Linked DNA regions of Homo sapiens. The protein of the gene in region 2 interacts with the protein of the main gene of each other region in a pairwise test. Each region holds a gene or a part of one and is shown on either strand. Other genes may lie near its edges.

Evidence for each region.
Region 1: the proteins of SLC18A1 (region 2) and TMEM14A interact in binary tests that used the Homo sapiens proteins (3 or more experiments, as listed by UniProt).
Region 3: the proteins of SLC18A1 (region 2) and MALL interact in binary tests that used the Homo sapiens proteins (3 or more experiments, as listed by UniProt).

What each region holds. Positions count from the first base shown.
Region 1 is NC_000006.12:52,669,333-52,673,084, reverse strand, and holds the start of TMEM14A (transmembrane protein 14A), read right to left. Parts: upstream 1,973-3,752; 5' UTR 1,840-1,972; intron 1-1,839. UniProt on the Homo sapiens protein: Inhibits apoptosis via negative regulation of the mitochondrial outer membrane permeabilization involved in apoptotic signaling pathway.
Region 2 is NC_000008.11:20,181,510-20,185,261, forward strand, and holds the start of SLC18A1 (chromaffin granule amine transporter), read right to left. Parts: upstream 1,628-3,752; 5' UTR 1,554-1,627; intron 444-1,553; exon of another isoform or gene 240-443; intron 1-239.
Region 3 is NC_000002.12:110,109,096-110,112,847, reverse strand, and holds part of MALL (MAL-like protein), read left to right. Parts: intron 1-3,752.

The DNA.
Region 1 (3,752 bases), on a different chromosome or scaffold from region 2:
GGAGCGCATGTGCAAGGCCCTAATGGCACAAGAAAGCATGTTCTCAAAATGAAAAGTGCAAGGGGCTTGTGAAAAGAGAGGGTGCTGGTGAGAAAGACAGGGCTGTACACCCACATAAGCCCCGTAAAGGGAGTCTGGTTCCGTCCTAAGGGCAATGAAGGATCACTGAAGGGAGCCTCACAATCAGATTTAAATTCCAGCAAGCACTTCCCAGTTGCAGTAGTGAAGATGGGTTGTGAAGTGAGGCAGGGAGATAAATCGGGAAGCTGTTGCAGTAAAGTAAGCAAGAGCTTAGTTGATAACGGTAGGCTTATCTAGAGAAATGGCAATGAGAATGGAGAGAAGGTGGACAGATTTCAGAAGTTCAGGAGGTAGAATCAGAATTGAATTTGAGGCGGGAAGGGAAAGTCAGGGGTGAATCAGAGATGACTCACCCCTAGGTATCTGGCTTAGACCATTAGGAGAAGTAGGGAGTCGGGGAGCCTCATGCTATTCCCTGAGACAGAGAACATGGGAACAGCAGCAGGTGTGTGGCGGTGGGAAGAGGGAGGTGGCTAGGAATGATGGGACCTGTTTAGAATGTATTCAGTCTGAGACGCCCAACACACAGTCCGGAAAACACCCTTACATACAGATCTGAAGCTTATGAGAGTTCTTTCATTATCAGGTGTAACTTCTAGACCTAATTTTCTCCTAAAGCTAAGTAGCTGTTGTGAAAGATTAATTCCACTCCATCCTGAGCCCCCCAGCTCTTCCTGCGATCTTCTCTTGAGGACCCATACCCTTTTACTTGGTTGGGATTCTCTCAACTCTCAGCCAGCCAAGCTCCTTGAGGGCAAACCAAGGTTCAGTTTATCTTTGTCCTCCTCACAGCACCAAGAACCCTGCCATGCACAAGGCAGGTACTTAAAATACTTGTTAAATGAATAAATGAGTGAGTGAACCAAAGGAACAGCTTCTGCCTGAAGACATTCTGTAACTGACCTACCCAATACAGCTTTATTGCCAGGAAACAGGTAGCCCCTTAATCTCCTTAGCGAACTGACTGTTGTTCTAAAGAGGCAAAATAAATCTACTCCCAATGCTTGCAAGAAGATTCTGTTCTCACAGAGAATATTCAGACAAAAGAATCACCTATTCCATGACGGAGCCATGTGGCCAGGCCAGAAGCACACATTAAAGCCAGAGGCTGTGTTAACATGGAAGGGATAAGGTGGGAGAGGATGTGCACAGCACATCACACGCTCTCATCACAAATGTGATGCTCAAGCCTTGGAAGGACTAAAACGCATCTTGGATGCAATGCAGCAAAACGATTTACCATACCAGGTACAAAACAAGGTGACAGGGGACAGCCTCGCTGCCCGCCCCAAATCCTCCAAAATTCGGAGAATTAAGAGATTTTCGGTGAACTGTTACATAAAAAGCATTTTCACATGCTAAAGATATAACAATTACCTACCCTTGAGCTCTTGGAGGGCACAAAAGGCACATTTTCGAGTGGGGTCTGGGTGGTGCTGAGAAGGTTAAAATCCTGCCAAGCATTTTGCAATGGTCCATGAGCCCACCCCACCACCCCAGATCCAGGAAGGTAGGAGGCAGGATAGGTGGGATATTTAGGGATACCAGAAGGCAGAAACTCGGGAGGAGGAGAAAAATGATACCGCGGAGGTAAGACCGATGCCCTGCAAAATCCCCTCAAGGTCCTCTGCATCATCGTTTGCTGTACAGGTTTGGCGCGGGGGAGGGGATGCCCGCTAAGCAACGCCCCTTATATTTCTGCAGTTTTGTAAGAAAATTCAGAGCAGGAAGGTCTCCATTGCGGGATGCACAGCTCACCTGCAGCCCCGAGCCTTCACTGCAGCTGAAAAGACAGAAGTCTGGGGCCAGCTGCCGCCAAGCGCGGTACCTGGAGTCCGGAAGCAGTCTCCGCACCAGCGCTGTCCCACTCGGCGCCCAGCCGTCTCGCGCTGAGCAAAGGCCGCTCCCTCCTGGAAACGCCCTCCCTGCCGCGCGCATGCGCTGTGTCCCTTCTCGCCTTGCAGGACTCCACCCGGTCCATGCCCTCCGGCTGAATCCGGGCGGCCTGTAGGCCAGGCAGCCAGGAGGCCCTGTGCTGCAACATCCCGGCGGCAGCCGGACCCGTTGCTCCGTCTATCCTGCCTTCGGCCCTGTCCTGGAGCCAGGGCTGGGGTTTGCTGCCTCCCGCCTGACGGAGCAGGACTGGCAGGAAGCGTGTTTGCAAGAAGCCAAAATTACAGAAGGCGAAGATTTTTAAATTAACTCCATTCATCTTTCAAGGGACATTTCCAGAACCTCCAAAAGGCAACCCGAGGTCTTCTACACACCCTCCAGCAGACTGTCCCCACTGTCAGTGGAGGGAGCTAAGGTTCAGTGAGGTCAAGTGACTTAGTTGTCCCAGGTCAAAATCCAAGTTTGCCTGGTGTCAAAGCCCAAGCACCCTTCATTACACTATGGGATCATCTAGATGTGGTTGGGAGACGAGGATCCTAGTTTTAAACTTCAGGCCCAGGATTTGCTGGGTTTAGATATCTACTGGGAAAGGTATAGAATTCCAGAGTTGGAAAGCACTTAAAACCTTGCCTAATGCAAGGCAATCCGCTCAATCCCAGGAACGAAACTTAAACTGACCTTATTTTTTTTTTAAATACAGGATCTCAGTCGGTCGCCCAGGCTGGAGTGCAGTGGCACCATCCCGTCTCACTGCAACCTCTGCCTCCTGCCTCCTGGGTTCAAGCGATTCTCCAGCCTCAACCTCCCAAGTAGCTGGGATTACAGGTGTGTGCCACCTCACCCGACTATTTTTTTTTTGTAGAGACGGGGTTTCACTGTGTTGCCCAGGATGGTCTTGAATTCCTGAGCTCAAAGCAATCCTCCCGCCTCTGCCTCCCAAAGTGCTGGGATTACAGTTTAAATTGACTTTAAATTATGCCTCCCTGTAGCAACTTATCATCTCAATCTTCTGCCTTCTTGATTGAATACAGAACTCCGACCCTCTTCCTTATGTAACAGCCCTTTGGAGATTTGAAGAAGGTTGTCATAGTGAAGTAGCTCTAGAGGTTCTGTGTCACTGAGAATTACAGCGGAATTCCTCAGAATAAAAAAGGAAACTCAAAAATTAAATCTTGTGAAGTTTGTTTGCTACATCTATTCTTTGTGCATAAAAGTGCTTCAGGGAAGTAATATAACTACATCTAACTTATGAAAGTCTAAGTTGGTCCTGGGGAATTAATAAAATTCCTGAAGATTCACAGAAGAGTTGATGGCAAGGCACTGGAATGTGGCGTGGAGAAAGTGATAGCCTGAAATTTGGTTCTGAGTTCTCTCAGCCCTCCTTTCCATCCCCTTCTATGCCCATCCTTACCCCAGCCTCCTCACCTTCTCTCCTCACACTCTCAGAACACTTACCCTATTTGGAATAAAACTAAAATCCTCTTGGAATACTTCATTATCTTCATCTGATGTGACCTGGGTAAATAACTCCCCTCTGGACCTCAGTGCCTGGATTTAAGATATGGACAAGACTAGATGCTCTGAGATCCCTTACACCCTATCACCAACATACTCGAAGCTGGAAACAGCCTCATGATATTCCTACTCAAGGCGTATCACCTAAAACTAAAGAAAAACTCTTTGAATATTATGGGAATTCCATACCCTTGAATATGTGGGAACAGGATGGTTCTTAGGCAAAGGGACCACTGCCCTCTCAACTCATAGGCACCAGCTGC
Region 2 (3,752 bases):
GCTGAGGTGGGAGGATATCTTGAGCCCAGGAGTTTGAGTCCAGCCTGGACTACATAGCAAGACCCCTAACTCTCAAAAAATTTTTAAAACCAACATAGATATTGATATCATGTTTCAAAAAGTTATTTTATGTGGCATGCAAAAAAAGTATGACCTTTGTTCTAGGTGCTACCCCAAAATATTTCATGTGGCACAGTGTCACTTGGGCTGCCCACTGAGAAACACTGATGTAGACCAACCTTCATCTCATAGACAAGAAATCCGAGCCTCTGAAGGTTAGGAGATTTGTTTGGGGTTGCACAGTTAGTGTCAAACTGGGATGAAATCCCACGCTTTTCAACTTGCCAGCTTATCCTCTACCATGTTCCCTTGCTCTGTGGTTCTAGAAGCACGCTCATTCTTTTGTTTGAGCTACAAACCCCTGATCAGAAAGATGCCTTCATCTGTGAAAATAAAATATTGACTTTCATGATTAGTTCTCTATTCAGGATTTCATATCATTAGTCAGCATTAAGTCACAGTACCTTGTCAAACTTCAAGTAATAAGAGTTTCTGGGGAGAATTTCATTTTCTTTGACGTGGCTTCTGTTGTGGTATCAACAATATCACTCATTTAAATTTTAAAATAGATTACCATCATGAAATCTATCAGGCCCTAAAAATTGTATACTCTTTGACTTAGTAACTCTACTACAAGGAACCCATCCTACAAAAGAAAAAAGGTCAGAGATGCAGCCAAAGACTTATACTCAAAATGATCAATTGCAGAATTATTTTTCTTAGTGAAAAAAGTCAAACATGTTAATGGTGGATTATTAAGCGGCTCTTAAAAATTATATTTTCAAATAATTTTAATGATACAGAAAATACTATTACTATAACGTTAAGTAAAAAAGGGAAATTAAACTGTGTTTTCAACTTTATCTCAATTGTCTAAATATAAATATATGGGCACATTTTTGAGAGAGTAGAGAGATACTCAAATGCCAGTTATTTATAATCAATGACTTCAGTTATCTTCTGTGTATTTCTAAATATTCAATAATGAGCTACTTTTGTAATTAAAGAAGTAAATAATTTTAAATGATTATCACTGAAATTCAATAGTCAGCCTCAGGTGTTGGGAGTACCCCAAACACTGAGGTACTCTGTTCTAAGCCCAGGGCTGGAAGAACCCTCTCACTACTACATATTAACGTGACCAAGGTCCTAAGTGAACCAAATTCTCAGTTAAGTTTTAACCAGTAAATGCATGCAATTACTTAAGATCCTTCATTTCTCTATATAAAGGAGGTATTTCTGAATACAAATTGACTTAGGATATGTATGGATAAGAATAAAAGACAAGCCATGGAAAATTAAAAAACATAGTGAGTGAAGTAAGTACTACAAAGAGAGAGAAACACACACACCCAAATCCCAAAACAAAAACAAACAAAACCAGGAATTTGCCAACAAATCAATAGTAAACTTTACTTAACAGTCAAAATCCTCTGACAGAGACACAAATCACAAGGAAAGATTAAATTTGTCCGGAGAGAGAAAAATCTTACCTTGGAGCCCATGTTGGTGTGAGGCACTCAGTGAGGTATTGGCAGCTGTTAGCAAGACAGCAGGGACACTGTTCTCTGAACGTGGATGTGCTGTTGGATTTATTGCCTCCTGTTATCTGAGGATTCTGTGTATGTGTGTGTGTGTGTGCCTTTGTCCACAAAGATTTAATTGCAACCTCCAACAGGGTTCATTCAGACCCTTAGCTCCCTGCGTCAAAGGCAGGAAGGCAGGGCTGGAGAGGATAAAGAGAGGGCAGATATTAGCCTAAGCAAAGAGGCACTGGACTGTACTGTTTTGCATCTGTGCTTATCTATCATCGAACTCTTTAACTCTTGCCTGGGTCTGAATACAAATTGGAAGCCAAGATGGAACCAGTGTGCAGTTCCTGTTCCTTGCTACTTAGTCAAAGTGGCTCCATGTACCCCAATTAGCTTCCTGGAAAGAAACAATGTATGTTGTTCTCAAGCCATAAAAACCCAACATCTGTGGCCTCTGTAAAGGCTTAGATTATGCACTGTGTCTTCACATCTCAATACTGGCTCAGTGCCTGATACATGGTAGCATCCAATAAATATTTCTTGCATGGATGACTGGATGGTTAACTACAGGAGAAAGTGCAGTTCCTTGTGGGATCTTGAGAGGCTCTAATGATCTATATTATTCTGACATTAAACCATTGGTGGCTCAAAGAACATAAGCAATTTATGAAAAAGCAAATACACTTTACGAGCAAGAGCAGTGCAGAGATTTCCTATTTGTGGAACTGGTGGGCCCCTCCTAATTGTGGGAATTAACTAGGGAACTTTCGATTTAACGCTAAAAAAAAAGAAAATAGTTTTTTAATTTTATTTTTTTTATTTTTGAGACAGAGTCTCGCTATGTCACCCAGGCTAGAGTGCAGTGGCATGATCTTGGCTCACTGCAACCTCCACCACCTGGGTTCAAGCAATCCTCTAATCTCAACCTCCTGAGTAGCTGGGATTACAGGTGCATGCCACCATGCTCAGCTAATTTTTGTATTTTCAGTAGAGACAGGGTTTCACCATGTTGGCCAGGCTGGTCTCGAAGTCCTGACCTCAAGTGATCCTCCTGCCTTGGCCTCTCAAAGTGCTGGAATTACAGACGCGAGCCACAGCGCGCGGCCTAGATGGAAACAGTTTTAAAATGTAAACCTAGAGCGAGAAATAGGGATAGGAAACAAAGACATCAGCAGAATGTATTCATCGCTATAGTTTGCTGCTGTAACAAATTACTACAATCTGGTGGCTTAAAACAACACGTATTTAGTATCTTGCAGTTCTGGAGGTCAGAAGTCCAAAATACATCACACCGGGTTAAAATGAATGTGTCGGCAGGGCTGCATTCCTTCTGGAGATTCTGGGGGATGGTTGTTTCCTTGCCTTTTCCAGCTTCCAGAGATCTCCTGCATTTCTTGGCTCCTAGCCACTTTTACCCTCAAAGCTAGCAGCAATGCATATTCAACTCTCCCTCTGACTCTGAGCCTTCTGCCTCCCTCTTTCACTTGTAAGGACTCACGGGATGACCCTGGGCCCACCCAGATATTCCAAGATCACCTCCCCATCTCAAGATCCTTAATCATATCTGCAAAGTCCCTTTTACCATAGGGGACTACCAAGGCAACATACTCACAGGTTCCAGGATTAGGAGGTGGACATCTCTGGGGTGCCACTGTCCACTCCCTACAGGGAGCATGGCACACTGCCCCCCACTTACATGCAGGGCCTGTGGCCTGAGCCTCTAGGGAATGAGGGGGTTAGGGCCAAAAGATGGAGGAACTGTATTAATAAAGATATTTGCAAGACTCTGGGCATAAGGCAGTATCCTTTTTGGAGTCCAGGTGACAATTCTGCCACCATGCCCTCCACCCTAAGTACAGTGTTAGAACTCTGAGGGTTGACAGCCTCCGGCATAGTGTACCTGTGTCCAATAGAGGGCGCTAGAGGGAGAGGGCTTGGGTAGAGCAGCCTCACAGGAATGTTCCGAGACAGCACCTAACTGGGGATGCCCCCCAAAAATTGGGAAATCATGATTTTGGGAAATTGAGGGCCTGGGAAAGCAGGTATAGACTAAGAATCATCACATGTTGGGCAATAATAAGAATAACAGCAACAATAACAGTAGCTATCATTTATGGATTACGTACTATTTGGGCATGTTTCTAATACATACTCATATAT
Region 3 (3,752 bases), on a different chromosome or scaffold from region 2:
ATTGATGGGCATTTGAGTTGGTTACACAATTTCACAATTGTGAATTGTGCTGCTATAAACATGTGTGTGCAAGTATCTTTTTTGAATAATGACTTCTTTTCCTCTGGATTGATACTGAGTAGTGTGATTGCTGGATCAAATGGTAGTTCTACTTTTAGTTCTTTAAGGAAACTCCACACTGTTTTCCATAGTGGATGTACTAGTTTACATTCCCACCAGAAGGGTAGAAGTGTTTCCTGTTCACCACATCCACACCAACATCTATTTTTTTTTTGATTTTTTGATTATGGCCATTCTTGCAGGAGTAAGGTGGTTTCACAATGTGGTTTTAATTTCCATTTCCCTGATCATTAGTGATGTTGAGCATTTTTTCATGTTTGTTGGCCATTTGTATATCTTCTTTTGAGAATTGTCTATTCATGTCCTTGGCCCACTTTTTGATGGGATTGTTTGTTTTTTTCTTACTGATTTGTTTGACTTCCTTGTAGATTCTGAATATTAGACCTTTGTCAGATGTACAGATTGCGAAGATTTTCTCCCACTCTGTGGGTTATCTGTTTACTCTGCTGTCTGTTCCTTTTGCTGTGCAAAAGCTCTGTAGTTTAATTAGGTCCCAGCTATTTATCTTTGCTTTCATTGCATTTGCTCTTGGGTTCTTGGTCATGAAATCCTTGCCTAAGCCAATGTCTAGAAGGGTTTTGCCAATGTTATCTTCTAGAATTTTTGTAATTTCAGGTCTTAAGTTTAAGTCCTTAATCCATCTTGAGTTGGTTTTTGTATAAGGTGAGAGATGAGGATCCAGTTTCAATCCCCTACATGTGGGTAGCCAATTATCCCAGCACCATTTATTCAAAAGGATGTCCTTTCCCCACATTATGTTTTTGTTTGCTTTGTCAAAGATCAGTTGGCTGTAAGTATTTGGGTTTATTTCTGGGTTCTCTATTCTGTTCCGTTGGTCTATGTGCCTATTTTTATACCAGTATCATGCTGTTTTGGTGACTATGGCCTTATAGTATAGTTTGAAATCAGGTAGTGTGATGCCTCCAGATTTGTTCTTTTTGCTTAGTCTTGCTTTGGTTATGTGGGCTCTTTTTTGTTCCATATGAATTTTAGAATTTTTTTTTCTAATTCTGTGAAGAATGATGGTGGTATTCTGATGGGGATTGCATTGAATTTGTAGATTGCTTTTGGCAATATGGTTATTTTCACAACATTGATTCTACCCATCCATGAGCATGAGATGTGTTTCCGTTTGTTTGTGTCATCTGTGATTTCTTTCAGCAGTGTTTTATAGTTTTCCTTGTAGAGGTCTTTCAACTCCTTTGTTATGTATATTCCTAAGTATTTTATTATTACTATTATTATTTTTTGCAGCTATCATGAAAGGGGTTGAGCTCTTGATTTGATTCTCTGCTTGGTCGCTGTTGGTGTATAGAAAAGCTACTGATTTGTGTACATTAATCTTGTATCCAGAAACTTTTGCTGAATTCTTTTATCAGTTCTAGGAGCTTTCTGGAAGAGTCCTTAGAGTTTTCAAGTTAAACGATCATATCGTCAGCAAACAGTGACAGTTTGACTTCCTCTTTACTGATTTGGATGCCCTTTATTTCTTTCTCTTGTCTGATTGCTCTGGCTAGGACTTCCAGTACTATGGTGAAGAGGAGTGGTGAGAGTGGGCATCCTTGTCTTGTTTCAGTTCTCAGAGGGAATGCTTTCAACTTTTCGCCATTCAGTATTACGTTGGCTGTGGGTTTGTCATAGATGGCTTTTATTACATTAAGATATGTCCCTTGTATGCCGATTTTGCTGAGAGTTTTGACAATAAAGCAATGCTGGATTTTTTCAAATGTTTTTTCTGCATCTATTGAAATGATCATGTGATTTTTGTTTTAAATTCTGTTTATGTGGTGTATCACATTTATTGACTTGCATATGTTAAACCATCCTTGCATCTCTGGTATGAAACTCACTTGATCATGGTGGGTTATCTTTTTGATACATTGTTGGATTCAGTTAGCTAGTATTTTGTTAAGGATTTTAGCATCTATGTTCATCAAAGACATCAGTCTGTAGTTTTCTTTTTTGGTTACGTCCTTTCCTGGTTTTGATATTAGGGTGATGCTGGCTTCATAGAATGAATTAGGGAGGGTTCCTTCATTCTCTATCTTGTGGAATAATGTCAAAAGGATTGGTACCAATTCTTCTTTGAATGTCTGGTAGAATTCTGGTGCGAATCCATCCGTTCTTGGACTTTTTTTGTTGGTAATTTTTAAATTACCATTTCAATCTTGCAGCTTGTTATTGATCTGTTTAGTGTATCTAATTCTTCCTGATTTAAGCTAGGAGGGTTGTATTTTTCCAGGAATTTATCCTTCTCCTCTAGGTTTTCTAGTTTATGTGTGTAAAGGTGTTCCTAGCAGCCTTGAATGATCTTTTGTATTTTGGTGGTGTCAGTTGTAATATCTCCTGTTTCGTTTCTTAGTGAGGTTATTTGGATTTTCTCTCTTCTTTCCTTGGTTAATCTTGCTAATGGTCTATTAATTTTATTTATCTTTTCAAAGAAACAGCTTTTTATTTCATTTATCTTTCATGGGTTTTTTTGGTTTCAATTTCATTTAGTTCTGCTCTGATCTTGGTTATTTCCTTTCTTCTGCGGGTTAGGATTTGGTTTGTTCTTGATTCTCTAGTTCCTTGAGGTGTGACCTTAGATTTTCTGTTTGTGCTCTTTCAGACTTTTTGATGTAGGTGTTTAGGGCTATGAACTTTCCTCTTAACACTGCCTTTGCTATATACCAGAGGTTTTGATAAGTTGTGTCATTATTGTCATTCAGTTTGAAGAATTTTTAAATTTCCTTCTTGATTTTGTTTTTGACTCAATGCTTTCAGAAGCAGGTTATTTAATTTCCATGTATTTGAATGGTTTTGAAGATTCCTTTTGGAGTTGATTTCCAGTTTTATTCTACTGTGGTCTGACAGAGTGCTTGATATAATTTCAATTTTCTTAAATTTATCAAGTCTCATTTTATGGTCTAGCATATGGTCTATCTTAGAGAAAGTTCCATGTGCTGTTGTATAGAATGTGTATTCTGCAGTTGTTGGATGAAATGTTCTGTCAGTTGTAATATCTCCTGTTTCATTTCTGTTAAGTCCGTTTGTTCCAAGGTAGTTTAAATCCATTGTTTCTTCATTGACTTTCTGTCATGATGGCCTGTCTAGTGCTGTCAGTGGAGTATTGAAGTCCCCCACTATTATTGTGTTGCTTTCTATCTCATTTCTTAGGTCTATTAGTAATTGTTTTATAAATTTGGGACCTCCAGTGTTAGCAGCATGTATGTTTAGGATTGTGAAATTTTTCTGTCGGACAAGGCCTTTTACCGTTATATACTGTCCCTCTTTGTCTCTTTTAACTGATAATGCTTTAAAGTTTGTTTTATCTGATATAAGAATAGCTACCCCTGCTTGCTTTTGGTGTCCATTTGCATGAAGTACCTTTTTCCACCCTTTTACTTTAAGTTTATTTGAGTCCTTATGTGTTAGGTGAGTCTCCTGAAGGCAGCAGAGGGTTGGTGAGTTCTTATCCATTCTGTGGTTTTGTGTCTTTTAAGTGGATCATTTAGGCCATTTACATTCAATGTTAGTATTGGAATGTGAGGTACCATTGCATTCATCATGCTCTTTGTTGCCTGTCTACTTTGGTTATGTTTTTGCTTTTTAATTTGTATTTTTGTTTTATAGGTCCTTTGTGATTTATG